Linked DNA regions of Homo sapiens. The protein of the gene in region 1 interacts with the protein of each later gene in a biochemical or structural test. Each region holds a gene or a part of one and is shown in the gene's direction. Other genes may lie near its edges. The genes, in order: PDZK1, LDB3, GOT1L1, SLC22A9, CLDN8, FZD4 and ABCA7.

Region 1 (4,011 bases):
CTGATCCTAAATCCAGATTTTCCCATTCTACCTTCTGCTTTGAAAGATATAGAGGAGGCCAGGAGGGCTTAGCCCCGAGGTGGAGGAAGATAAGCTGGTATGAGGAAGCTGCTCAATGTCATTTTAAACCGTTTATCCATGGGCTCAGGTCATGTCTTTGTTGGGGGCCAAGCCAAGGCCCAGCAAAGACAAATGGCTCTTCCAGTGTGGGTGGAAGAGGGGTGAGGTCACCCAGTCCTCGGCCTGTGGTTTGCTTTGCCTCAGTGCCGGGAGCAATCTCTTGCCCTGATTTGCATTGTGGGCTGAGGATTCAGGTCAGTGAGAAGGCCAGTGATAGAATTGTCTGTGTGGGTGCTGCTGATAGGGATCAGCTGCTGATCATGGCTAGGGCTAGCGGCTGAGCACACGGGCACCAGCCTACTGCTCGGGCAGCAAGGCAGCAGGATGGAGGGGTTTGTAAAAATGCCTTCCACCTACCCTGCTGGGCTTGCCCGAGAGGCTCTGAGTGTGTGAAGGGGAAGACAATTATCGCTAGGCTGGAGAATAGAAAGAGCACCATCAGGTGAGAAAGAGAAGAAAAAAAGAGAGGGGAGAGAGTGGATAAGAAGAAGGAAGCCTGGGACACAAGAACAAGGGCTTTGCTTGCTCTAGGGCTTTGCTTGCTAAACTCCTAGGGAGCACACAAGTGAGAATCCAGGGCAGAGGGAAGCAGGATGGGTGCCCTGAGTGCTTGGCCCCATTTCCTGGGGCTTACTGGCCTCGTGGGTGGGAGTTTTATAGGCTACTGCTCCTTGGGGAGGCCTCAGTGATTGAGGATACTCCTGTATGAGCCTCGGCCCTGACCCCAGGATGGGGGACTGGAGGATCCTAACAGGATTGGGGGTTGGTTGGGTGTAACCAAGGTATCTGCCAAAGGGAGAGTACCAAGGAAAGCGGAGGCACCTCCTCCCTGGCTGTCCTTCACCCCCTCTCCCCTCCTTGTTCTCTGGGAGTGGCTGGCGAGCAGCGGCCTCCCCGCAGGGCCAGGCAGGTGGGCCAGAGCTTTTGGTTTGCTGAGGTTTGTCAGATTTTCCAGCTCAGGGCCCAGCCAGCTGGCAGGAAGCAGGACAGAGGTCACTTGAATTCAGACCACATGTCCCTGTTAAATACATTAGCTTTTAAATCAATCTTTGTTCAAAGTCCAGTGAGTTGCAAGCTTAATGCTCACCTGCAGAGACAGAATTCCTGAGTGAACGAACAGAGCAGCTCCTCTTCCATCTCCAGGTAAGAACTGCTCGTGTCCTCCTTGAGGGTGCTGGCCACCGGGGCCTGAACTACCTTCTTTCTTTTCCTTTTCCCTTTTTCTTTTTCCAAGCCAGTAGCTGGCTGTCTAGGGCAGAGAAGAGTCCCATGGGGAGGCAGCCAGGCCCCTTTGGCGGTGGTTGGGGGTGAGAGATGATCCACGCTCTGAGATTCTTTCTGCTGGAGATGCCCCTCACCTTTGTAGGCTAGGGTCTGCTTCACAAAGAAATTGGTAAACCGACCTCAGAAAAAGCCTTCCCGGGGTTGTGTGGGGGTTTGATGTGCAGCCAAAGGGAGTGAGACAACTGACTTCACAGGTAACCAGGCGGATATGCCCGGGACCTTCCTACTGATACAGGGGCCTTGGGTAGCAGAGAAGACTCTTCTGGAAGCAGCCTTTAAAGGATGCAGCCTAACTTAGCTTGCCCACTAGATAATAAAAGCAGGCATCTTTCCTCTCTGTATCACACTGCAGCACTAAGACATGAGAAAAACCAGTGGATTTCCAGGCTGGCTGAATTTTAAAACATACATTCCCCAGGCTCTCACCTTTGGCATTTCTAAGTCTCCAGGCCTTGTGTGAATTGAAAGATCTTTATTTGAAAACTCTCCCAGAATCATTCTGATCAGTGCAGGTAGGTTTGGGAACCACTAGTAGTTTATTTCTTAAGCAGAAGACTCATGAGACTTAAGTATGACACTTACCTAAGGGTTCACTCGCTATGAAGACTCCTGGTCTGGGTTGGGTCCAGCTATGAAGATTTGGGCGTTGGCTCTGAGAAACACATTCTTCTTTATTTACTAAAATCTCTGCAATGTGTCACCAGGGCAGCTTTCAGTCTTGTATCTAGAAGGCAAGAGGGGGTAGCAGGGACTGCCTCAGGCCATGATTGTCCAGTCATCTGAAGTCTGCAGCAAATTACTCAGGGTCTTTGAATTTCTGTGTTATGATAGTAACTTGTGCTTATCTTTGACTTTTGTATGTTCTCTGCACCATAGGGTGTGAAGTTGCTGGTAATGATGTCTTATATTCATAGACCACTGGCTAGGCAGCTACTTCTCCCCCAGGGGAAAGAACATAGGACTGGAATACAAATCATCAGAGTTTTGATTCAGTTGCTAGTGACAGGCCATTAGACAAACTACTTAGCCAACTGGAGCCTCAATTTCATTATTGATCAAGTGAAGGTCTGTCATCTTTTCCCCAAGAGTGTACTGAAAATAAAATTATAAGTACAAATGTGTGGTCCTGCATGGTGGCTCATGCCTGTAATCCCAGCACTTTGGGATGCCCAAGCGGGAGGATCACTTGAGGCCAGGAGTTCGAGACCAGCCTGGGCAATGAAGTGAGACCCCCGTCTCTACAAAAAATAATAATAAATTAATCCTGCATGGTGGCATGTGTCTGTGGTGTCAGCTACTTGGGAGGCTGAAATGGAAGGGTTGCTTGAGCCCAGGGGGTCGAGGCTACAGTGAGCCGTGATTGCATCACTGCACTCCAGCCTGGGTGACAGACTGAGATCCTGTCTAAAAAACAAAAAACCATGAATATGTTAAAAACACGATGTAAGATGCCTAGATTTCAAATGTGTATATCGAAAGTCTCTGTAGAATAGTAAGAAGAAACAAATTGCAGTCACTTGGGAAACCTTGTCCTAGTCTTTTAATCTCATTGAGCCTCTGTTTGCTCACTTACAAATAAGAAGTTGAGACCAGATCATCATTAATGTCTTTTTCAGTTGGCCAAGTATAAGGTAGATCCTGGAGCCTTGAAGGGTAGCTCCTTGTCATTGGGGTATGAATTAAAATGTCACCTCCCAGGAAGGACTTTCTAAATCAGCCTCCCACCTCCATGCCACCAGTATCTCTATCATTCACAGCGTGTACCATCAGAAATCATCTCATTTGGGCTGGGTGCAGTGGCTCACATCTGTAATCCCAGCACTTTGGGAGGCTGAGGCAGGTGGATCACCTGAGGTCAGGAGTTCAAGACCAGCTTGGCCAACATGGTGAAACCCCATCTCTACTAAAAATACAAAAATTAGCCGGGCGTGGTACTGCCTGTCTGTAGTATTAGCTACTTGGGAGGCTGAGGCAGGAGAATTGCTTGAACCTGGGAGGTGGAGGTTGCAGTGAGCCAAGATTGTGCCATTGCACCCTAGCCTGGGTGACAAAGTGAGACTCCATCTCGAGAAAAAAAAAATCATCTCTTTTACTTGTCACCTTTGCCAGATGTTAAGCTTCAAGACTGCAGGGATCTTGTCATTTGTGTTACTTGCTGTATTACCAGCCCCTTGAGCACTACCTGGCATAGAACATATTTGCATAAATGGAATTAGTGTGGCAGGGAAGGAGCTAGAAGAATAGATGCAGATGGCGATGGCTTTGATGAGGTGTTCCTCAGGAAAGGAGGTTGAAGGACTCCAATCCTCTCTCAGGGCATCTGAAGTCCAGGGTCTAATCATATGGGAATGGGTTTCTCTGGTCACTTCTTAGTGAAATGATTCTTGCATTCGTTGCATAGGGATGCAATGAGAGTGGCAAGCTGGAGCTAGACGTGTTTTCCTCAAGATCTCAGCAACTTCTTTCTTTGGTCCTTCATGAGGGACTGCCCAGATTTCCTTAATCTCTTTGCCTGATGGGTATCATGGCTAAGTGATTAAGAAAATGAGCACTGGGATTGGAAACCTGCACTCTAGATCAGGCTCTCTAAGCTTCTATTTCCTTGTC
Region 2 (3,500 bases), on another chromosome or scaffold:
TGAGTATGGTGGTGGGCGCCTGTAATCCCAGCTACTAGGGAGGCTGAGGCAGGAGAATTGCTTGAACCCGGGAGGCAGAGGTTGCAGTGAGCTGAGATCGCGCCACTGCACTCCAGCCTGGGTGACAGAGTGAGACTCCATCTCAAAAAAAAAAAAAAGAATTTCATCTCTTTTGTTTTTTTGTATATTTCTCTGCATACTTTTCCATATCTACCTTTTTTTTTTTTTTTTTGAGACGGAATCTCGCTCTGTCGCCCAGGCTTGGGTACAGTGGCATGATCTCAGCTCACTGAAACCTCCGTCTTCCGGGTTCAAGTGATTCTCCTGCCTCAGCCTCCTGAGTAGCTGGGATTACCAGTGCGCACCACCACACCCGGCTAATTTTTGTATTTTTAGTAGAGACAAGGTTTCACCATGTTGGTCAGGCTGATCTCAAACTCCTGATCTCGTGGTCCTCCTGCCTCGGCCTTCCAAAATGCTGGGATTGCAGGCGTGAGCCACCATGCCTGGCCCATCTCTCTTTTTAAATGGTGGCATTCCATTGGAAAAATACACCATGAAAATTTACTGAATCATCTTCCTATTGAGAGAAATTTTACTAGTTTTCAGTTTCTAGTTGAGCACAGGTTGTTTTGTTGTTCTGCAGAGTTGCTTCTGCAGGATAAAATTCTCTAGCGTGGCATTACTGGGTTACAGGGTAGTCACATCTCAATGGTTCTTGTTCAACATGGCCAGATTCCCTATGGAACACTGAGCTCACTCACATGTCTCTAGCAGTGCACGAGTAGGCCTTGTTCCTTTTTGGCATTGCTGATTTTTGATTGAATACTTTTTTTTTTTTTAAGCTTTTTGGCTACAGGCATATTAGGTTAAAGGTGACAGGCCATTGAGGTTTTTTTGTTTTATTTGTCTTGCTAGATTAATATGTGTCTAGTGGTATCTCAGGGCAGTTTTTCTTGTAATTTTTTTAACTAATTTTCTTTTCTTTCTTTCTTTTTCTTTTTTTTTTTTTTTGGTAGAGACAGAGGCTCACTATGTTGCCCAGGCTGGTCTCAAACACCTGGCCTCAAACGATCCTCCTGCCTTGGCCTTCCAAAGTGTAGGGATTACAGGCATCAGCTACTGCGCCTGGAGTCAGGGGAGTTTTAATTTGCTTTTTCTTTAATTATTAGTGAGTACAATCTTCTCTGATGTGTTTGTTAGTTTACTAATGATTTTCTTTAGACGTGAATCCTCTCTGTGGTATATTGACTTGTGAACTTGTATTGACTCTATTCATGCTATTTTAGATAGCATGAATTGGTCAGCTTCATAGTGTATATTTTCTCTATTCCATTAAATTTAATTAATTTCATTTGATTTTATTCTGTTCTTCAGGAATCTTAGTTTTTATATAGTCCAACTCATGTACTCTGCTTCCGTCATTAAGAATTCATAGTGGGAGAAATAGGCTGTTGCCTTTTCTCTAGAATGCATGGGGCAAGGCTGTTTGTTTGTTTGTTTGTTTGCTTTAGACAGTCTTGCTATGTTGCCCAGGCTGGAGTGCAGTGGCACAATCACAGCTCACTGCAACCTCTGTCTCCCGGGTTCAAGAGATTCTTCTGCCTCAACCTCCCGAGTAGCTGGGATTACAGGCACATGGCAACATGCCCCTGGCTAATTTTTGTATTTTTAGTAGAGATGGAGTTTCGCCATGTTGGCCAGGCTGGTCTTGGACTCCTGACCTCAAGTGATCTGCCTGCCTTGGCCTTCCAAAGTGCTGGGATTACAGGACTGAGCCACCACGCCTGGCCAGGGCGTTTTCTTAAAAAAGTGATTGAAATCTGCTCATGCCCTGTGCCACGTGGGTCTCACGCAGGTCTGTTCTCTGCTCCAGGTCTGCCATGTGAATCTGGAGGGGCAGCCGTTCTACTCCAAGAAGGACAGACCCCTGTGCAAGAAGCACGCACACACCATCAACTTGTAGGCGGCCAAGGCCGCCTGTGCTGACGAGGCCCGGAGCTGCTCCTGCTGCTGGCAACAAAGGATTCGGGAGGCTGATGTTTCTTCTGAGGGGAATGGGGAGAGAGAGGAAGCGACTGAGCCCTTTGGAAGTATAATTTTAGGTTTTTTCTTCTGTACACAGATCGTGCATTTGCATAGTTCAGACTAGGAGCCAAATGAAGACTCAAAACCAAGCTAGTTATTAATCCAAGACTGGAATTGTACTTCAGACATTTAGAGCAGAATTCCAAGAACTCAAAAGTGAAAAGCAACAAGCAGCTTTCCCAAAGCGATACACTTGCTTTGGTCACCAGAGGAGGACAGAGCTTAGAGCAGCTGTGGAGAATCTGAAGCATTCTGCGGAGTTCTTAAGCGCTCCCCTGGCAAACAAATTGAAGTGCCAAACAGCACTCGCTGCAGGGTATTTTTAGAGTCATAGCTGAGAGCTTGTTAGCTAAGACCCATTGGGCTTTCCTCACCAAAAAAGGAAGTGTTATTCCATTACTAGCGTCATGGAGCTACCTCTGCGCATCAGACTTCAGACCTTGAACAAACTTAAAACCTTCTTGGGAGCCCGGACGTCCAAAGAGATGTCTTCTGGGAGCCACTGGGCAATTGCCAGGGCTCCAGGAAGGGCTCTGGCTCAGGTTGCAGACAGCTGAGAAAAGATGGCCCTGTCAGCCACCCTCTCTCAGTCTGAAACATCCAACATCCCCAGAAGGCTTAGCTCCTTTTTGAATTGTGATGGGAAAGTAGAGTTGGGTTTTTCCAGTTTTGCTCTGTGGTGTGTGAGAGATTTTTTTAAAGGCTTTGGGTTGTCTTTGGCCTTTGTTTAGCTTTAAGGGTTCGTTAGCATGAGTGTCCAGTCGTGTGCATGAATTTCACCCCAACTTGTGACTGCTCACTTATGACGTCTCCCCCAGTACCCTCCATCTCAAATAGGCTTGGTGGCCTGTGGAAAAGAAGAGAGACAGAGAGACAGTGTCTGAAACAGGATGGCAGAATAGGCTCACATGCCCAAACTCTGGGTGGGGAAGAGGAAACTTACTTTCTGCCACCCTCAGTAAGAACACACGAGGAGGCAGGACCTCCCACCTTCAGGTCTGCATCATCCTTTTCAAATGTTCCTTTAAATGCAGCACACTGAGTTTGTACAATTGTGTTAACTGCTGGAAGGGACAGATGCACTGATATATATGCATTTGCTGTTTTGGCCAATATTTTGAAAATGTATGAGCTGAGTTGATCTAGCTATTATTTAAGTATTTATTGAAGTAGAGGGGCCTTCAAACTACTTTATACTAGTGATAGTTTGAGTTAGGTAAGCATCTTAAAGCTGTTTGGTGATAAAGAAGGCAGCTTAGATTCTGTGGTTGGAAACAGTGTAGTCGCTTCCCTTTTTAGGAAGCCCTGTTAATATGCTCATTGAAAACATGGCATTGAAGCAGGCACTTGCGTGGATGTTTCTCACTTGAGCACGATATTTAGGCTCTCTTCCAACTCACTCTATTCTGTCC
Region 3 (4,054 bases), on another chromosome or scaffold:
TCCCAGCACTTTGGGAGGCCCAGGTGGGCAGATCACCTGAGGTCTGGAGTTTGAGACCAGCCTGATCAACATGGAGAAATCCCCCTCTCTACTAAAAATACAAAATTAGTTGGGTGTGGTGGCGCATGCCTGTAATCCCAGCTACTCGGGAGGCTGAGGCAGGAGAATCTCTTGAACCTGGGAAGCAGAGGTTGCAGTGAGCCGAGATCACACCACTGCACTCCAATGTGGGCAGCAAGAGCGAGACTCTGTCTCAAAAAAAAAAAAAAAAAAAAAGAGAGAGTCATTAAACATCAAAAGGAAAAGAAAGCAAGCAATATGCAGACTGACTCTATAGAGGCTGGCTCTTTTCTCCCCTTGGCCTCTGCTGTCTATACTTACTAGTTGGCTGTCATTGAAACTTAACAAATGGCCAGGTGTGGTGGCTCATGCCTGTAATCCCAGCAGTTTGGGAGGCCAAGGCAGGCAGATCACCTGAGGCAAGGAGTTCGAGACTATCGACAAAGTGAGACTCCATCTCAAAAAAAAAAAAAACCAAAAAAAGAAAGAAAAAGAAACTTAACAAACATATGTAGAAGTCTTGGCTCTAGATAACTGAGAGAAATAGGACTGGCTTAGTGAGTTGCCAATTATATTCTAATAATAGGATTCTTTATTAAAACAACTGTGGAAGAAAACAGTGTTTGCTTTTTATTCCTTTTGAAATCTGGGGCACTTTGCAAAATGGAAATCAATGCCTCGACTTGCATTGGTGTGTGATCTGGGGTTTTTGCTTCTGCAGGAGAAGCCCTATCTGGCTTATTGGCTGCCTGCCTTGCCCTATGTCTTTCTTTCTTTTTTTTTTTTTTAATTTGTATAAATGTGTGAAGTACAAGTGTAATTTTGTTAGATGCATACATCGCATAGTGGTGAAGTCAGGGCTTTTAGGGTATCCATAACCCCAACAATGTACATTGTATCTGTTAAGTAATCTCCCATTATCCTTGCCCTGTCATCTAAGGAGTGGGCTTGTTACTTTGGACTGAGCCACCTGGGGCTAGAGAAGAGAAGGCATTGAGTGAGGGAAACGGGCTTGGGAATTCCGGAGATTGTTATCCTGCCCTGCCCGCTGTCTGAGGGGATTCTCCTCAAGTACCCTGGAATGTTCCTGTGGCCCCTGTGGATCGCCACCACAAAGATCATGAGGTTCTGTTGCCCTGGCAACCCGTTGTCCAGCGCCTCTGCACTGGGGCTGCCAAGGTTCCAGGAAGAGGCAGGACTGCCCGGCCCAGCCTTGGAGGAAGACTTCTGGGCAGAAGCGGAACACAGGAGCAGAGACACATAGTCTTGGCTCCAGTTTCGTTTCAGTTATGCCCACCCTTTCAGTGTTCATGGATGTGCCCCTCGCCCACAAGCTAGAGGGCAGCTTGTTAAAGACCTACAAACAAGATGATTACCCGAACAAGATATTCTTAGCCTATAGAGGTAGATGCCTAGCAGTTCTGAAGTATAAGACTTAAGTGATGGTAACTGCCTCTAGGAGGACAGTGTTCCCTGCTGCAGGGGGAGGGGTGCAGCCCAAGCTTCTGTGGGTGGAGAGATCTTTTCTTGTTAACAGAATTACCCAGTGGGGAAAAGTGCAGATAAGGTCCCAGGTCATTCCATGCTCTCTGCCCTTCTCTGGGGGCTTCTAGGGATTTGGTGAGAGCTATGTCCTCTTCCACAACTCTATGCTTGGGGGCCTGCATGGCCATCCCACACTTCTTCAGATTCTTACCTCCTCTCTCTCTCTTTCTCTTTCTCTTCCTGTTCTTGAACCAAGAATGGTTCTCCAGATTGAGCTTTCTGCTATGCAACTGGGGCTCACCACTGTGAAAGTCAGGGTTACCTTTATTTAGCTTCATCTACCTATAACTCTCATTTTGCATATATATATATATATATATATATATATATATATATATATATTTTTTTTTTTTTTTTCTTGAGACAGGGCCTCACTCTGTTGCCCAGGCTGAAGTGCAGTGGCAAGATCTCAGCTCACTGCCACCTTTGCCTCCTGGGCTCAAACCATCCTCTTGCCTCAGCCTCCTGAGTAGCTGGGACTACAGGCGCTGGTCACCATGTCTGGCTGTTTTGTATTTTTTTGTAGAGACAGGGTTTCATCATGTTGCCCAGGCTGATCTTGAACTCCTGAACTCAAGTGATCCACCCACCTTAGCCTCCCGAAGTGCTGGGATTACAGGCCTGAGCCACCAATCCTGGGCTTGTATAATTTTTAACCTTTAAAATGGCATAGGTTTCAGTTGTCTTTTTTAAAAAGACAAAAATAATACACATTCACTAACAGCATATTCTTTTCATCAAGGAGAAAAGAAAAGGGAAAGTTGTATTTTCACAGGCACCTTCCCACAGCCCCATGGAGTCCAGGAGAGATTTGTTTGCAGGCTGTCTGCAGAGCTCAGCCCTGGGGGCCCAAACCAGGCATCTGGAGCTCCCTCTGTGGTTTTCCTCACAGTCTGCATGACAAATGAAGGCCATCCCTGGGTTTCTCTCGTGGTGCAGAAGACTCGACTACAGATTTCACAGGATCCCTCCCTGAATTATGAGTACTTGCCCACCATGGGCCTGAAATCATTCATCCAGGCCTCTCTAGCACTCCTCTTTGGAAAGCACAGCCAAGCCATTGTGGAGAACAGGGTGAGAAGGTGGGCCCTCCCCTGGCTCATTTAGACACAGAGAGTGGCGATCTGGGTCTGCACAACCTTAAACCCGAAGGGGACCTCGGAGGGCCCCCTGGTATTGATAAAAGAGATACCTGAGGCTCAGAGAGTCCACAAGTCCTTAGCCATCGAGTCAGGATCGGAATCTCAGTCCAGTGGTATTCCCACCTGCTCACACTGCTGATTTGAAAGCTCTTTCAAGACAGGAATGATCTGAATTGGAGGTGGTGTTAGTATTCCCATTACTGTTTTATTTTTTAACCTATTATATATATTTTTTGAGACAGAGTCTCACTCTGTCACCCAGGCTAGAGTGCAGTGGTGCCATCTCAGCTCACTGCAACCTCCACCTCCCAGGTTCAAGCAATTCTGGTGCTGCATCCTCCTGAGTAGCTGGAATCACAGGCATGTGCCATCACGCCCAGCTAATTTTTGTATTTTTTGTAGAGACAGGGTTTCACCATGTTGGCCAGGCTGGTCTCAAACTCCTGGCCTCAGGGGATTCCCTGCCTCGTCCTCCCAAAGTGCTGGGATTACAGGCATGAGCTACTGCGTCTCGCCTCCATTACTGTTTTAGAGTGTTATTTCTGTCTATTTCTTTTTATTTTTTAATGTTTATTTACTTATTATTTTTTTGAGACGGAGTCTCACTCTGTCACCCAGACTGGAGTGCAGTGGCCTGATCTCCGCTCACTGCAACTTCCGCCTTCCGGGTTCAAGTGATTCTCCTGCCTCAGCCTCTTGAGTAGCGGGGATTACACATGCCCAACACCACATCCGGCTAATTTTTGTATTTTTAGTAGATACGGGGTTTCAACATGTTGGCCATGACCTCGAGTGATCCACCCACCCCAGCCTCCCAAAGTGCTGGAATTACAGGTGTGAGCCACCACACCTGGCCTATTTGTGTCTATGTCTTGCTGGCAGGTAGGGGGTGTACACACTGTTGGTGACAGTGGTGCCTTCCAGCTTGGCGTCCAGTTTCTCAGAGCTTGGCATAAGGATGCTCGTATAGTTTACATCATCTCTTCTCAAAAAGGTTAGTCTTACCCAAGATGAGGGGAACAGCAATCCCCGTCCCTTGTTCCTAATCCTCACCCCATTTGCCATCTTCACTGTTATCCCTCATTCTCTGTCATGAGCAAAATGGCAGACAAGCCAAGCTATTTATGTCCTTTTCCTGTTAATGTCCCACCTTCAGCCAGTGACTCTCAGCCCCACACTCCAGTACCTCTGTCTCCGTCTCTCTGTTTCCCATGTACCAGCTAGTGGGGGGCTGTGTTCCCACAGAACTGCATGGACTCGTCTTCCAGGACATGGGCTTTACAGTTTATGAATACTCTGTCTGGGAC
Region 4 (3,500 bases), on another chromosome or scaffold:
CAAATCCCTATTTGTCTGGAGTTTCATTATACTTACTTACTATAAGTTCCTAAAGCATGACTAAGTGGAAATGCCTGTGAGAAGTCTTTCTCATTTTAATCCACCCCAGATCTTAAAGATAAATGTTGTCATGGATCTTTAAGTTAAATATTATCCATGTTATACACATATATAAAGTATTAATCTTAAAATGTGGTATGCACAAATGATACTAGATCATGAATAACAGAATAAGTCAAGGTAACTACCTGAATGAAGCTTTTGCTATGACAGAGAATATCAATGGACAGATTTAAATCCAAATATTGGAAATGATATGGGAAAGGAAAGAATGCTACTTGGAACAATAAAAATACATTTTCTCCCATTTTATTGAAAAAGGAGAGGATTAAGAGCAAGCCTCTTAATATCCTTACATATTAATATTAACCTTAAATGTAAAACATCACACTTAAAAGACACAGAGTGACAAGTTGGATTAAAAAAAAAAATACACCCAATTGTATACTGACTTCCAGAGACACTCACATGCAGTGACACCTATAGGCTCAAAGTGAAAGGATAAAGAAAAATCTAACAAGCAAATGGAAAACAAAAAAAGAGCAAGGGATGCAATTCTAATTTCAGATAAAACAGATGTTAAACCAACAGTGATCAAAAAAGGCAAAAGGAGAATTACATAATGATCCAGGGTTCAATTCAATAAGATTTAACTATCTTAAATATATATGCACCCAACACTGGAGCACGAAGATTCATACAACGAGTTCTTAGAAATCTACAAAGAGACTTAGATAAATCATACAATGATAGTTGGAGAATTCAACACCCCACTGGCAGTGTTAGACAGATTATAGACACAGAAAACTAACAAAGATGTTCAGGAACTAAACTCAACACTTGACCAAATGGACCTAACAGATATCTAAGGAACACTCCACCCAACAACAGCAGAATATACGTTATTCTCCTCTGCACATGACACATGCTCTCAAATTGACCACACATCAGCCATAAAACAATCCTCAGCAAATTCAAAAAGAAAGAAAGAAAGAAAGTAAACCAACCACACTCCTGGACCACAACACAATAAAAGAGAGATCAATATGAAGAAGATCTCCCAAAATCATAAAATTACATGGAAATTAAACAACCTTCTCTTGAATGACTTCCGGATAAATAAAGAAATTAAGGCAGAAATCAAGAAAACCTTTCAAACTAGTGAAAACAAAGATATAACATACCAGAATCTCTGGGACACAGCTAAACACATGTTAAGAAGGAAACTTATAGCACTAAATCCCCACATCACAAAGTTTGAGAGATCTCAAATTAACAACCTAACCTCAAACCTATTGGAACTAGAAAAAGAAGAGCAAACAAAACCCAAAGCTAGCAGAAAAGAAGAAGTAACCAATTCAAAGCTGAACTGAGTGAAATTGAGATGTAAAAAAGATACATATCAACAAAACCAAAGATTGGTAATTTGAAAGAACACATTAGATGGATAGACTTTCTTAAACTAATAAAGAAAAAAAGAGAGCGGATTCAAATAAATGCAATTAGAAATGACAAAGGTGACATTACCACCAACAACACAGAAATACAAAAAACACTCAGAGACTATTACAAACGCCTCTATGCGCAGAAACTAGAAAACCTGGAAGAAATAGATAATTCTTGTAAACATTCAAACTCCCAATATTGAATCAGAAATAAATTGAAACCCTGTATAAACCAATAACAAGTTTCCAAACTGAATCAGTAATAAAAAGCCAGTCAACTAGAAAAATCCCTGGGCCACATGGATTCACAGCTAAATTCTACCAGACATGTAAAGAAGAGCTTGTACCAATCCTACTGAAATTATTCCAGAAAATTGAGGCAGGGAGACTCCTAACTCATTCTACAAGACTAGATTCATTCTAATACCAAAACCTGGCAGAGAAAAAAATTTTAAAAAAAGAAAAACCAGACTAAAAACAAAAAACACATTATCAACCCAATAGACAGAGAAAAGGCTTTTAATAAAATTCAACATCGTTCATATTACAAACCCTCAACAAACTAGGCATCGAAGGAGCATACCTCAAAATAATGAGAGCTATCTATTGACAAACCCAAGCCAAGATCATACTGAATACACAAAACCTGGAAGCAGTCCCCTTGAGAACCAGGCAAGACAAGGATGTCCACACTCACCAATTCTATTAAGCATAGTACTCAAAGTCCTAGCCAGAGTAATTAGACAAAAGAAAGAAAAGGCCACAAAATAGGAAGAGAGGAAGTCAAAATATCTCTCTTCACATACAATATGATCTTATACATACAAATCCCTGTAGTTGTAGCCCAAAAGCTCCTTGATCTGGTAAACAATTTTAGCAAAGTTTCAGGATACAAAATCAATGTACAAAAATCAGTAGCATTTCTATACGCTGACATCGTTAAAGCTGAGAGCCAAATCAAGAATGTAATCTCATTCGCAATAAACACAAAATAATAAAATACCTAAGAATATAGCTAGCTAGGGAGGCAAGAGTTCTACAATGAGAACTACAAAGCAATGATGAAAGAAAGCAGAGATGACCACAAACAAATGCAAAAACATTCCATGCTCATGGATATGAAGAATCAATATTGTTTAAATGGCCATACACCCAAAGCAATTTACAGACTGAATCCTGTTCCTATCAAACTACCAAAGACATTTTTTATAGAATTAGAGAAAACTATTCTAAAATTCATATGGAACAAAAAAAAAGAGTTTGAATAACCAAAGCAATCCAAAGCAAAATGAACAAAGCTGTAGGCATCACACTATCTGACTTTGAACCATACTACGAGAACACAGTAACCAAAACAGCATGGTACTGGTACAAAGACAGAAAGGTAGACCAATAGAATAGGCTAGAGCACTGAGAAATAATGCCATACCTCTACAACCATCTGTTCATCAATGAAGTCGACAAAAACAAGCAATGGGGAAAGGATTCCCTATTCAGTCAATGGTGTGATAACTGACTATCCATATGCAGAAGATTGAAACTGAACCCCTTCCTTTCACCATATACAAAACTCAAGTCAAGATAAAGACTTAAGTTTAAGACCTAAAACTATAAAAATCCTAGAAGAAAACATAGAAGATACCATTCTGGACAAAGGCCCTGACAAAGGTCTCATGACAAAGACTCCAAAAGCAATTGCCACAAAAACAAAAGTTGACAAATGGGACCAAATAAACTAAAGAGCTTTTCCACAAAAGTTTTCAACAGAGTAAATAAAGAAGAGTGTAAACAGAAAACCTATAGAATGGGAGAAAATATTTGCAAACTGTTCATCCAACAAAGGCCTAATATTCACAATCTATAAGGCACATGAACAAATTAAAAAAGAACAGACAGCCCATAAAAAATGGCCAAAGCACATGAACAAACAGTTGTTTTTGTTTTGTTTTGTTTTGTTTTTGAGATGGAGTCTCACTCTGTCACCCAGGCTGGAGT
Region 5 (3,804 bases), on another chromosome or scaffold:
CTCCCATATTTGGATTTAAGGTAGTCCAATGAAACAGAGAGAAAGTAAAACTGTAAAGAGAAAATCATTTTTTATGATGTTAAGAAGAAAAGAAAATGAAGTGGCAGCTTAAACTTTGGAAAGATCAGACAGAGAGCTTAAGGTGATCTCCAGAAGAAAATTGCTAGTCGAATTTTCTCAGATAAACATTTATGCTTAGTATAGCACTACTGTTAGAGCATCATTATTTTGAGAAGAAAGTTCAAATTGTCTTGCGTTTAGGGGTTTCTATGTCCTACTGCAGACATAATATTAAAAGGTAGGAAAACATATTTGGTTAATACCTAATATAATACAGTTTGGTAAATATAGTTCCCTTGTCTTGTAAATATCTTATTTTGAAATATCAGCCATTTGTATAGGCCCAAGGGTCTTGTGTCATCTTCAGAATTCTAGTTCCTTCAGCCCAGGAATTCAAAGCAGCAAGAATAACACCACAAAATAAGCTCATAAGCTTATTTTAATGCTATAGTGCTGGATACATAAGATAATCATCTGGTGATTTTTATTTTGGCAAAAAATGTTTTTATAAGTGAAGATTATCAGAAAAGTGTCAATGAGTATTTTTTCTGGCTTAAAGAACTCCAATATGTTTTCAGTGCCAAGGAGAAGGACAGCCTTGTGTATTTAATTACTTTAGCTTATTTTGTCCTCTGGCATGATCTGTTCCCTGATTTCACCACAGTAGAGCTTGCTTTGAAGTTGTAGAAAAATTAAATCAATCACTTGGATCACATGTGTCCCAAAGAATGTGGCTTCCCAGGTAAAAGCAATCTTTCAATCCCCTACTCTCGTTTCACTTTGGCATTTCAACAGCGTTGCAGAATTCTTCGGCAGATAATTTATTTTATCCCTTGGTCCCAGCAGCTCTTATTAAGAGTTTCAGAATTGCCTGTACAAGGTGCACCTTTCACATTACAAGGGATCGGCTCATTTCTTGATGCTTATGCAACCACTTATAACTATGCCTACAGGTAAACATACTGCTGTCTTCTTGGAAGACCGAGAAGTATAAAGAATGTTTATGTGCAGGTCTAGCTGTTCCAAGTACCCAAGTGTTGGTTTAGACACACCTGGATTACCATCCACCTTTTATTGGCTGAGAAAGTTGCCACACCTGATTTGTAAGTTTACCTGTTGCAGCCAATAGCAGGGCCATCTCAGCCAGCCAGCACTGGATACTATCTGGCCAGAAGTAGCAAAGCAGCTCTTATTTGAAAAACCACTGGGTTCCGAGTTCATTACTACAGGAAAAACTGTTCTCTTCTGTGGCACAGAGAACCCTGCTTCAAAGCAGAAGTAGCAGTTCCGGAGTCCAGCTGGCTAAAACTCATCCCAGAGGATAATGGCAACCCATGCCTTAGAAATCGCTGGGCTGTTTCTTGGTGGTGTTGGAATGGTGGGCACAGTGGCTGTCACTGTCATGCCTCAGTGGAGAGTGTCGGCCTTCATTGAAAACAACATCGTGGTTTTTGAAAACTTCTGGGAAGGACTGTGGATGAATTGCGTGAGGCAGGCTAACATCAGGATGCAGTGCAAAATCTATGATTCCCTGCTGGCTCTTTCTCCGGACCTACAGGCAGCCAGAGGACTGATGTGTGCTGCTTCCGTGATGTCCTTCTTGGCTTTCATGATGGCCATCCTTGGCATGAAATGCACCAGGTGCACGGGGGACAATGAGAAGGTGAAGGCTCACATTCTGCTGACGGCTGGAATCATCTTCATCATCACGGGCATGGTGGTGCTCATCCCTGTGAGCTGGGTTGCCAATGCCATCATCAGAGATTTCTATAACTCAATAGTGAATGTTGCCCAAAAACGTGAGCTTGGAGAAGCTCTCTACTTAGGATGGACCACGGCACTGGTGCTGATTGTTGGAGGAGCTCTGTTCTGCTGCGTTTTTTGTTGCAACGAAAAGAGCAGTAGCTACAGATACTCGATACCTTCCCATCGCACAACCCAAAAAAGTTATCACACCGGAAAGAAGTCACCGAGCGTCTACTCCAGAAGTCAGTATGTGTAGTTGTGTATGTTTTTTTAACTTTACTATAAAGCCATGCAAATGACAAAAATCTATATTACTTTCTCAAAATGGACCCCAAAGAAACTTTGATTTACTGTTCTTAACTGCCTAATCTTAATTACAGGAACTGTGCATCAGCTATTTATGATTCTATAAGCTATTTCAGCAGAATGAGATATTAAACCCAATGCTTTGATTGTTCTAGAAAGTATAGTAATTTGTTTTCTAAGGTGGTTCAAGCATCTACTCTTTTTATCATTTACTTCAAAATGACATTGCTAAAGACTGCATTATTTTACTACTGTAATTTCTCCACGACATAGCATTATGTACATAGATGAGTGTAACATTTATATCTCACATAGAGACATGCTTATATGGTTTTATTTAAAATGAAATGCCAGTCCATTACACTGAATAAATAGAACTCAACTATTGCTTTTCAGGGAAATCATGGATAGGGTTGAAGAAGGTTACTATTAATTGTTTAAAAACAGCTTAGGGATTAATGTCCTCCATTTATAATGAAGATTAAAATGAAGGCTTTAATCAGCATTGTAAAGGAAATTGAATGGCTTTCTGATATGCTGTTTTTTAGCCTAGGAGTTAGAAATCCTAACTTCTTTATCCTCTTCTCCCAGAGGCTTTTTTTTTCTTGTGTATTAAATTAACATTTTTAAAAAGCAGATATTTTGTCAAGGGGCTTTGCATTCAAACTGCTTTTCCAGGGCTATACTCAGAAGAAAGATAAAAGTGTGATCTAAGAAAAAGTGATGGTTTTAGGAAAGTGAAAATATTTTTGTTTTTGTATTTGAAGAAGAATGATGCATTTTGACAAGAAATCATATATGTATGGATATATTTTAATAAGTATTTGAGTACAGACTTTGAGGTTTCATCAATATAAATAAAAGAGCAGAAAAATATGTCTTGGTTTTCATTTGCTTACCAAAAAAACAACAACAAAAAAAGTTGTCCTTTGAGAACTTCACCTGCTCCTATGTGGGTACCTGAGTCAAAATTGTCATTTTTGTTCTGTGAAAAATAAATTTCCTTCTTGTACCATTTCTGTTTAGTTTTACTAAAATCTGTAAATACTGTATTTTTCTGTTTATTCCAAATTTGATGAAACTGACAATCCAATTTGAAAGTTTGTGTCGACGTCTGTCTAGCTTAAATGAATGTGTTCTATTTGCTTTATACATTTATATTAATAAATTGTACATTTTTCTAATTATTTGACATTCTTTCACAAGTCTCCTTTTGTTTCTGTTTTATTAACTTGTAGAAGAATGTTGAAAAGCCTGATAATTTTTTATTCTCCAAATTGAGAAAGAATGTCAAGATTTGCCTTGTAAAGACAAACAGTGCATTAATTTTTGAAAATATAAAGTACTCTATGTTATTTATGTTATTTAACAACAATATACCTTATAATCATTGGATCCCTATACCAATATTCAATGCAGATAATATATTTATAATTTAAGATAGTACTATAAATTCAAGCAAATCTATATGTTATAAATATTATGTATATAACAGCCAGGTTTGAAAAATTTTCTGTAGCTAAATATATATTTCTACTTCTGAGAAATAATAAATAATATTGTCTAATGTTCTGGGGGCATGTATTACATGCTAGGACCTCTACTGCTTATATGAATTGTTATTAAATCTTTTATGAGACTGATAATGTTATTAGTTCAATTCAAAGATGAGGCTATCTCAGAACAATTCAT
Region 6 (3,500 bases), on another chromosome or scaffold:
CTCTGGCCCAGGCAGGGGAAGGAAGACCAGGCGGTAGGGGACTGGTCTTGCTGTTAGAGTATAGAGGTTTGTAATGCAGTTTTCTTCATAATGTGTCAGTGATTGTGTGACCAAGGCAGCATCTAGCAGAAAGCCAGGCATGGAGTAGGTGATCGATACTTGTCAATGACTAAATAATAACAATAAAAGAGCACTTGGGTGAATCTGGGCACCTGATTTCTGAGTTTTGAGTTCTGGAGCTAGTGTTTTGACAATGCTTTGGGTTTTGACATGCCTTTTCCACAAATCTCTTGCCTTTTCAGGGCAAAGTGTATTTGATCAGAAGTGGCCATTTGGATTAGTAGCCTTAGCAATGCTACAGGGTTATAGGCCTCTCCTTTCACATTCCAGACAATGGAGAGTGTTTATGGTTTCAGGAAAAGAACTTTGTGGCTGAGGGGTCAGTTACCAGTGACCTTCAATCAACTCCATCACTTCTTAAATCGGTATTTGTTAAAAAAATCAGTTATTTTATTTATTGAGTGCCGACTGTAGTAAAGCCCTGAAATAGATAATCTCTGTTCTTCTAACTGATCTAGGATGGGGACGCACCCAGGTCTGCTGAACTTTACTGTTCCTCTGGGAAAGGAGCAGGGACCTCTGGAATTCCCATCTGTTTCACTGTCTCCATTCCATAAATCTCTTCCTGTGTGAGCCACCACACCCAGCCTGGGTCTCTCTACTTTTAACACATCTCTCATCCCTTTCCCAGGATTCCTTCCAAGTCAGTTACAGGTGGTTTTAACAGAAAGCATCAGCTCTGCTTCGTGACAGTCTCTGGAGAAATCCCTTAGGAAGACTATGAGAGTAGGCCACAAGGACATGGGCCCACACATCTGCTTTGGCTTTGCCGGCAATTCAGGGCTTGGGGTATTCCATGTGACTTGTATAGGTATATTTGAGGACAGCATCTTGCTAGAGAAAAGGTGAGGGTTGTTTTTCTTTCTCTGAAACCTACAGTAAATGGGTATGATTGTAGCTTCCTCAGAAATCCCTTGGCCTCCAGAGATTAAACATGGTGCAATGGCACCTCTGTCCAACCTCCTTTCTGGTAGATTCCTTTCTCCTGCTTCATATAGGCCAAACCTCAGGGCAAGGGAACATGGGGGTAGAGTGGTGCTGGCCAGAACCATCTGCTTGAGCTACTTGGTTGATTCATATCCTCTTTCCTTTATGGAGACCCATTTCCTGATCTCTGAGACTGTTGCTGAACTGGCAACTTACTTGGGCCTGAAACTGGAGAAGGGGTGACATTTTTTTAATTTCAGAGATGCTTTCTGATTTTCCTCTCCCAGGTCACTGTCTCACCTGCACTCTCCAAACTCAGGTTCCGGGAAGCTTGTGTGTCTAGATACTGAATTGAGATTCTGTTCAGCACCTTTTAGCTCTATACTCTCTGGCTCCCCTCATCCTCATGGTCACTGAATTAAATGCTTATTGTATTGAGAACCAAGATGGGACCTGAGGACACAAAGATGAGCTCAACAGTCTCAGCCCTAGAGGAATAGACTCAGGGATTTCACCAGGTCGGTGCAGTATTTGATTTCTGGTGAGGTGACCACAGCTGCAGTTAGGGAAGGGAGCCATTGAGCACAGACTTTGGAAGGAACCTTTTTTTTGTTGTTTGTTTGTTTGTTTGTTTGTTTGTTTGTTTGAGACAGGGTCTTGCTCTGTCACCCAGGCTGGGGCGCAATGGCACGATCTTGGCTCACTGCAACCTCTGCCTCCTGGGTTCAAGTGATTCTCCTGCCACAGCCTCCTGAGGAGCTGGGACTACAGGTGCGTGCTACCACGCCCAGCTACTTCTGTATTTTTAGTAGAGACGGGGTTTCACTGTGTTGGCCAGGCTGGTCTCGAACTCCTGACCTCATGATCTGCCCGCCTCAGCCTCCCAAAGTGCTGGGATTACAAGTGTGAGCCACCACACCTGGCCTGGAAGGAACCTCTTAAAATCAGTTTACGTCTTGTATTTTGTTCTGTGATGGAGGACACTGGAGAGAGTTGCTATTCCAGTCAATCATGTCGAGTCACTGGACTCTGAAAATCCTATTGGTTCCTTTATTTTATTTGAGTTTAGAGTTCCCTTCTGGGTTTGTATTATGTCTGGCAAATGACCTGGGTTATCACTTTTCCTCCAGGGTTAGATCATAGATCTTGGAAACTCCTTAGAGAGCATTTTGCTCCTACCAAGGATCAGATACTGGAGCCCCACATAATAGATTTCATTTCACTCTAGCCTACATAGAGCTTTCTGTTGCTGTCTCTTGCCATGCACTTGTGCGGTGATTACACACTTGACAGTACCAGGAGACAAATGACTTACAGATCCCCCGACATGCCTCTTCCCCTTGGCAAGCTCAGTTGCCCTGATAGTAGCATGTTTCTGTTTCTGATGTACCTTTTTTCTCTTCTTCTTTGCATCAGCCAATTCCCAGAATTTCCCCAGGCAATTTGTAGAGGACCTTTTTGGGGTCCTATATGAGCCATGTCCTCAAAGCTTTTAAACCTCCTTGCTCTCCTACAATATTCAGTACATGACCACTGTCATCCTAGAAGGCTTCTGAAAAGAGGGGCAAGAGCCACTCTGCGCCACAAAGGTTGGGTCCATCTTCTCTCCGAGGTTGTGAAAGTTTTCAAATTGTACTAATAGGCTGGGGCCCTGACTTGGCTGTGGGCTTTGGGAGGGGTAAGCTGCTTTCTAGATCTCTCCCAGTGAGGCATGGAGGTGTTTCTGAATTTTGTCTACCTCACAGGGATGTTGTGAGGCTTGAAAAGGTCAAAAAATGATGGCCCCTTGAGCTCTTTGTAAGAAAGGTAGATGAAATATCGGATGTAATCTGAAAAAAAGATAAAATGTGACTTCCCCTGCTCTGTGCAGCAGTCGGGCTGGATGCTCTGTGGCCTTTCTTGGGTCCTCATGCCACCCCACAGCTCCAGGAACCTTGAAGCCAATCTGGGGGACTTTCAGATGTTTGACAAAGAGGTACCAGGCAAACTTCCTGCTACACATGCCCTGAATGAATTGCTAAATTTCAAAGGAAATGGACCCTGCTTTTAAGGATGTACAAAAGTATGTCTGCATCGATGTCTGTACTGTAAATTTCTAATTTATCACTGTACAAAGAAAACCCCTTGCTATTTAATTTTGTATTAAAGGAAAATAAAGTTTTGTTTGTTAGGTTGTGTGTGACTTGGCATATTTCTGAAAGTATATGACAGCCACTAGGAAGCATATACACCCAGCAGTGAGAAATAGAGGATTCAGTTTGTAGGGCAGATTGGGAACTGCTTTCTGAGGGCCTCTTTCTTTTTTGCTGGGGCTCTTTTTCCCCTGTGGGATTTCTCCTGCGTCAGCAAACCCCCACAGTCTAAGGTCAACAGAATTGATTGCTAATATGGTCATCAGTAACACTCAAGTAGGTCACATGATGCTTTGGATATAACTATAGTTCTCAAGTTGT
Region 7 (3,500 bases), on another chromosome or scaffold:
AGACCCTGTCTCAAAATAAATAGGGCGGGAGTGGTGGCTCACGCCTGTAATCCCAGCACTTGGGCAAGCCGAGGTGGGAGGATTGCCTGAGGTCAGAGTTTGAGACACAGCCTGGCCAATATGGCAAAACCATCTCTACTAAAAATACAAAAATTAGCCGGGTGTGATGGTGGCGTGCACCTGTAATCCCAGCTACTCAGGAGGCTGAGGCAGGAGAACTGCTTGAACCCTGGAGGCGGAGGTTGCAGTGAGCCGAGACTGTGCCGTTGCACTCCAGCCTGGGCAACAGAGTGAGACTCTGTCACAAAAAAATAAAAATAAACAAATAAATAAAAATAAGGCTATCACAGGGTTTTGGATGTAGCATTTAATAGGTGCTCTGTGGCCAGGCGTGGTGGCTCAGGCCTGCAATCCCAGCACTTTGGGGGGCCGAGGCGGGTGGATCACGAGGTCAGGAGATTGAGATCATCCTGGCTAACATGGTGAAACAGTGAAACCCCGTCTCTACTAAAAATGCAAAAAAATTAGCCGGACATGGTGGCGGGCGCCTGTAGTCCCAGCTACTCGGGAGGCTGAGGCAGGAGAATGGCGTGAACCCGGGAGGTGGAGCTTGCAGTGAGCCGAGATCGTGCCGCTGCACTCCAGCCTGGGCAACAGAGTGAAACTCCGTCTCAAAAATAATAATAATAATAATAATAATAATAATAATAATAAATAATTAAAAATTTTTTAAAAACAGAAATTAAAAATAGAAGCTCTGTAACTGCCAGTGCACTCTGTGAAGGGGGCTACTCTGAGACCCCTCTATCCACAGGTCCATCTTGAGTGGCCTCTTCCCACCCAGTGGTGGCTCTGCCTTCATCCTGGGCCACGACGTCCGCTCCAGCATGGCCGCCATCCGGCCCCACCTGGGCGTCTGTCCTCAGTACAACGTGCTGTTTGACATGTGCGTCTCGGCAGGCCCAGAGTGCAGCGGTGGGAAGGGACTGGACGCCCTCTGGGACTCTGCCTGCCATGTGGGTCACTCTGCTCTGTGCACTGGCCGCAGGCTGACCGTGGACGAGCACGTCTGGTTCTATGGGCGGCTGAAGGGTCTGAGTGCCGCTGTAGTGGGCCCCGAGCAGGACCGTCTGCTGCAGGATGTGGGGCTGGTCTCCAAGCAGAGTGTGCAGACTCGCCACCTCTCTGGTGAGCCCATCCCCAAGGGAGGTCACCTCACAGGGAGGGGCCTGGGGATTCATCCTGAAGGCAGGGGGAAGCCGGGTACTGAGGTCCACGTGGGTAGGCAACCTTGCCCAAGGCTGGGTGTGACACACTGAGGTCCCTTCCCCATCTCTACCAGGTGGGATGCAACGGAAGCTGTCCGTGGCCATTGCCTTTGTGGGCGGCTCCCAAGTTGTTATCCTGGACGAGCCTACGGCTGGCGTGGATCCTGCTTCCCGCCGCGGTATTTGGGAGCTGCTGCTCAAATACCGAGAAGGTAAGAGCTGGGGATTCTGCTCGAGGGGCCAGAAAAGGCTTCTGACAAGGAAGTGCTGGGGATGGGGTTTTGAGGAATGAGTAGGAGTTTGCTACATGTGGACCCCACTTGTTGCTATGGCATTTAGGGGCTACTGCTCAAATACCGAGACAGTAAGAGTTGGGGATAGACAGAGGTTCCCCTGGATTCTGCCTGAAGGGCCAGAAAAGGTTTCCAACAAGGAGGTTCTGGGGATGAGGTTTTGAGGGATGAATAGGAGTTTGCTTCATGGGGCAGACAACTCCTGGCAGAGGCCCCAGCTCGGGCAAAGACGCGGCGGCCTGATGGTAGTTGTGGGTTGGTCCCCCGTGCCTAGGTCGCACGCTGATCCTCTCCACCCACCACCTGGATGAGGCAGAGCTGCTGGGAGACCGTGTGGCCGTGGTGGCAGGTGGCCGCTTGTGCTGCTGTGGCTCCCCACTCTTCCTGCGCCGTCACCTGGGCTCCGGCTACTACCTGACGCTGGTGAAGGCCCGCCTGCCCCTGACCACCAATGAGAAGGTGGGGACCGGCCTTCTCCTGACCCCTGACCCCCGGGACTCTGTTCAGCCCTGAAGGCCAAGCCACTTGGTGCCTCTCTGCCCGCAGGCTGACACTGACATGGAGGGCAGTGTGGACACCAGGCAGGAAAAGAAGAATGGCAGCCAGGGCAGCAGAGTCGGTGAGGGCCGGGGTGGGAGACCCAAGGCGGGTGGGCAGTGGGGTGGCTGTGCCTTAACTTGAGGAGGAGGAGGGGGAGGGGGAAGAGGAGGAGGAGGGGGAGGAAGCGGCAGAGGAGGTTGAGGCGGAGGAGGAGGGGGAGGAGGAGGGGGAGGAGTAAGAGGTGGAAGGGGAGGCGAAGGGGAGGAGTAGGAGGGAGAGGAGGAGGGGGAGGGAGAGGAGGAGGGGGAGGAGAAGGGGGGAGGAGGAGGGGAAGGGAGAGGAGGAGGGGGAGAAGAAGGGGAGGAGTAGGAGGGGAGCAGAAGGGGAGGAATAGGAGGGGGAGGAGGAGGGGGAGGGAAAGGGGGAGGAGAAGGGGGAGAAGTAGGAGGAAGAGGAGGGGGAGGAGAAGGGGGAGGAGTAGGAGGGAGAGGAGGAGGAGGGAGAGGAGGGGGAGGAGAAGGAGAGGAGGAGGAGAGCACTTGAGAACCTGAGATGATGCCCCCATCCCTGGGCTGAGCCGGAACCATGAGACTAACTTGAACACTGACCCCACCTTTAACCCAACCAGGGCTGAGCCCAGAGACAAACCTACCCCTGACCTCCAACACTAGGTCCAGCACTGCCCTCAAGATCTCTTTTTGTTTGTTTCTGAGTCTTGCTCTGTCGCCCAGGCTGTAGTGCAGTGGTGTGATCTCAGCTCACTGCAACCTCTGCCTCCTGGGTTCAAGCATTTCTCCTCCCTCAGCCTCTCGAGTAACTGGGATTACAGGTGGGTTCCACCATGCCTGGCTAATTTTTGCATTTTTGGTAGAAATGGGGTTTCACCATGTTGGTCAGGCTGGTCTCAAACTCCTGACCTCAGGTGATCTGCCTGCTTCAACCCTCAAAGTGCTGGGATTACAGGCGTGAGCCACTGCGCCCGGCCGCACCTGGCCTACGTTCTTAACCCTGATCTCTGTCTGCCGGGACAGTCCCCTCACAGGTCACCAATGCCTCTTCCCCAGGGAGACTGGGGTGGGGCGTGAGCCGGGGCTCCCTGAAGCACCCCTTTGTCCACACAGGCACTCCTCAGCTGCTGGCCCTGGTACAGCACTGGGTGCCCGGGGCACGGCTGGTGGAGGAGCTGCCACACGAGCTGGTGCTGGTGCTGCCCTACACGGGTGCCCATGACGGCAGCTTCGCCACACTCTTCCGAGAGCTAGACACGCGGCTGGCGGAGCTGAGGCTCACTGGCTACGGGATCTCCGACACCAGCCTCGAGGAGGTGTGAGGCCTGGGTGGTGGTGAGGTGGGGCCAGGAGGAGGGCTTCCTGGAGGAGGTGGTGTTTTGAAGGATGAA

The links.
Region 2: the proteins of PDZK1 (region 1) and LDB3 interact in a test that uses a peptide from one of them, tested with the Homo sapiens proteins (one large-scale study listed by IntAct).
Region 3: the proteins of PDZK1 (region 1) and GOT1L1 interact in a test that uses a peptide from one of them, tested with the Homo sapiens proteins (one large-scale study listed by IntAct).
Region 4: the proteins of PDZK1 (region 1) and SLC22A9 interact in a test that uses a peptide from one of them, tested with the Homo sapiens proteins (one large-scale study listed by IntAct).
Region 5: the proteins of PDZK1 (region 1) and CLDN8 interact in a test that uses a peptide from one of them, tested with the Homo sapiens proteins (one large-scale study listed by IntAct).
Region 6: the proteins of PDZK1 (region 1) and FZD4 interact in a test that uses a peptide from one of them, tested with the Homo sapiens proteins (one large-scale study listed by IntAct).
Region 7: the proteins of PDZK1 (region 1) and ABCA7 interact in a test that uses a peptide from one of them, tested with the Homo sapiens proteins (one large-scale study listed by IntAct).

The regions. Positions count from the first base shown.
Region 1 is NC_000001.11:145,704,569-145,708,579, reverse strand, and holds the start of PDZK1 (Na(+)/H(+) exchange regulatory cofactor NHE-RF3), read left to right. Parts: upstream 1-1,211; 5' UTR 1,212-1,263; intron 1,264-1,756; exon of another isoform or gene 1,757-1,916; intron 1,917-4,011. UniProt on the Homo sapiens protein: A scaffold protein that connects plasma membrane proteins and regulatory components, regulating their surface expression in epithelial cells apical domains.
Region 2 is NC_000010.11:86,731,011-86,734,510, forward strand, and holds part of LDB3 (LIM domain-binding protein 3), read left to right. Parts: intron 1-1,876; coding exon 1,877-1,966; 3' UTR 1,967-3,500. UniProt on the Homo sapiens protein: May function as an adapter in striated muscle to couple protein kinase C-mediated signaling via its LIM domains to the cytoskeleton.
Region 3 is NC_000008.11:37,937,325-37,941,378, reverse strand, and holds the start of GOT1L1 (putative aspartate aminotransferase, cytoplasmic 2), read left to right. Parts: upstream 1-1,254; 5' UTR 1,255-1,349; coding exon 1,350-1,464; intron 1,465-2,497; coding exon 2,498-2,679; intron 2,680-3,629; coding exon 3,630-3,741; intron 3,742-3,992; coding exon 3,993-4,054.
Region 4 is NC_000011.10:63,376,285-63,379,784, forward strand, and holds part of SLC22A9 (organic anion transporter 7), read left to right. Parts: intron 1-3,500. UniProt on the Homo sapiens protein: Sodium-independent organic anion transporter, exhibits high specificity for sulfated conjugates of xenobiotics and steroid hormones such as estrone 3-sulfate (E1S) and dehydroepiandrosterone sulfate (DHEAS).
Region 5 is NC_000021.9:30,213,506-30,217,309, reverse strand, and holds CLDN8 (claudin-8), read left to right. Parts: upstream 1-1,212; 5' UTR 1,213-1,384; coding exon 1,385-2,062; 3' UTR 2,063-3,304; downstream 3,305-3,804.
Region 6 is NC_000011.10:86,945,396-86,948,895, reverse strand, and holds the end of FZD4 (frizzled-4 precursor), read left to right. Parts: 3' UTR 1-3,217; downstream 3,218-3,500. UniProt on the Homo sapiens protein: Receptor for Wnt proteins.
Region 7 is NC_000019.10:1,050,107-1,053,606, forward strand, and holds part of ABCA7 (phospholipid-transporting ATPase ABCA7), read left to right. Parts: intron 1-814; coding exon 815-946; intron 947-1,048; coding exon 1,049-1,188; intron 1,189-1,342; coding exon 1,343-1,480; intron 1,481-1,835; coding exon 1,836-2,020; intron 2,021-2,107; coding exon 2,108-2,180; intron 2,181-3,222; coding exon 3,223-3,425; intron 3,426-3,500. UniProt on the Homo sapiens protein: Catalyzes the translocation of specific phospholipids from the cytoplasmic to the extracellular/lumenal leaflet of membrane coupled to the hydrolysis of ATP. Transports preferentially phosphatidylserine over phosphatidylcholine.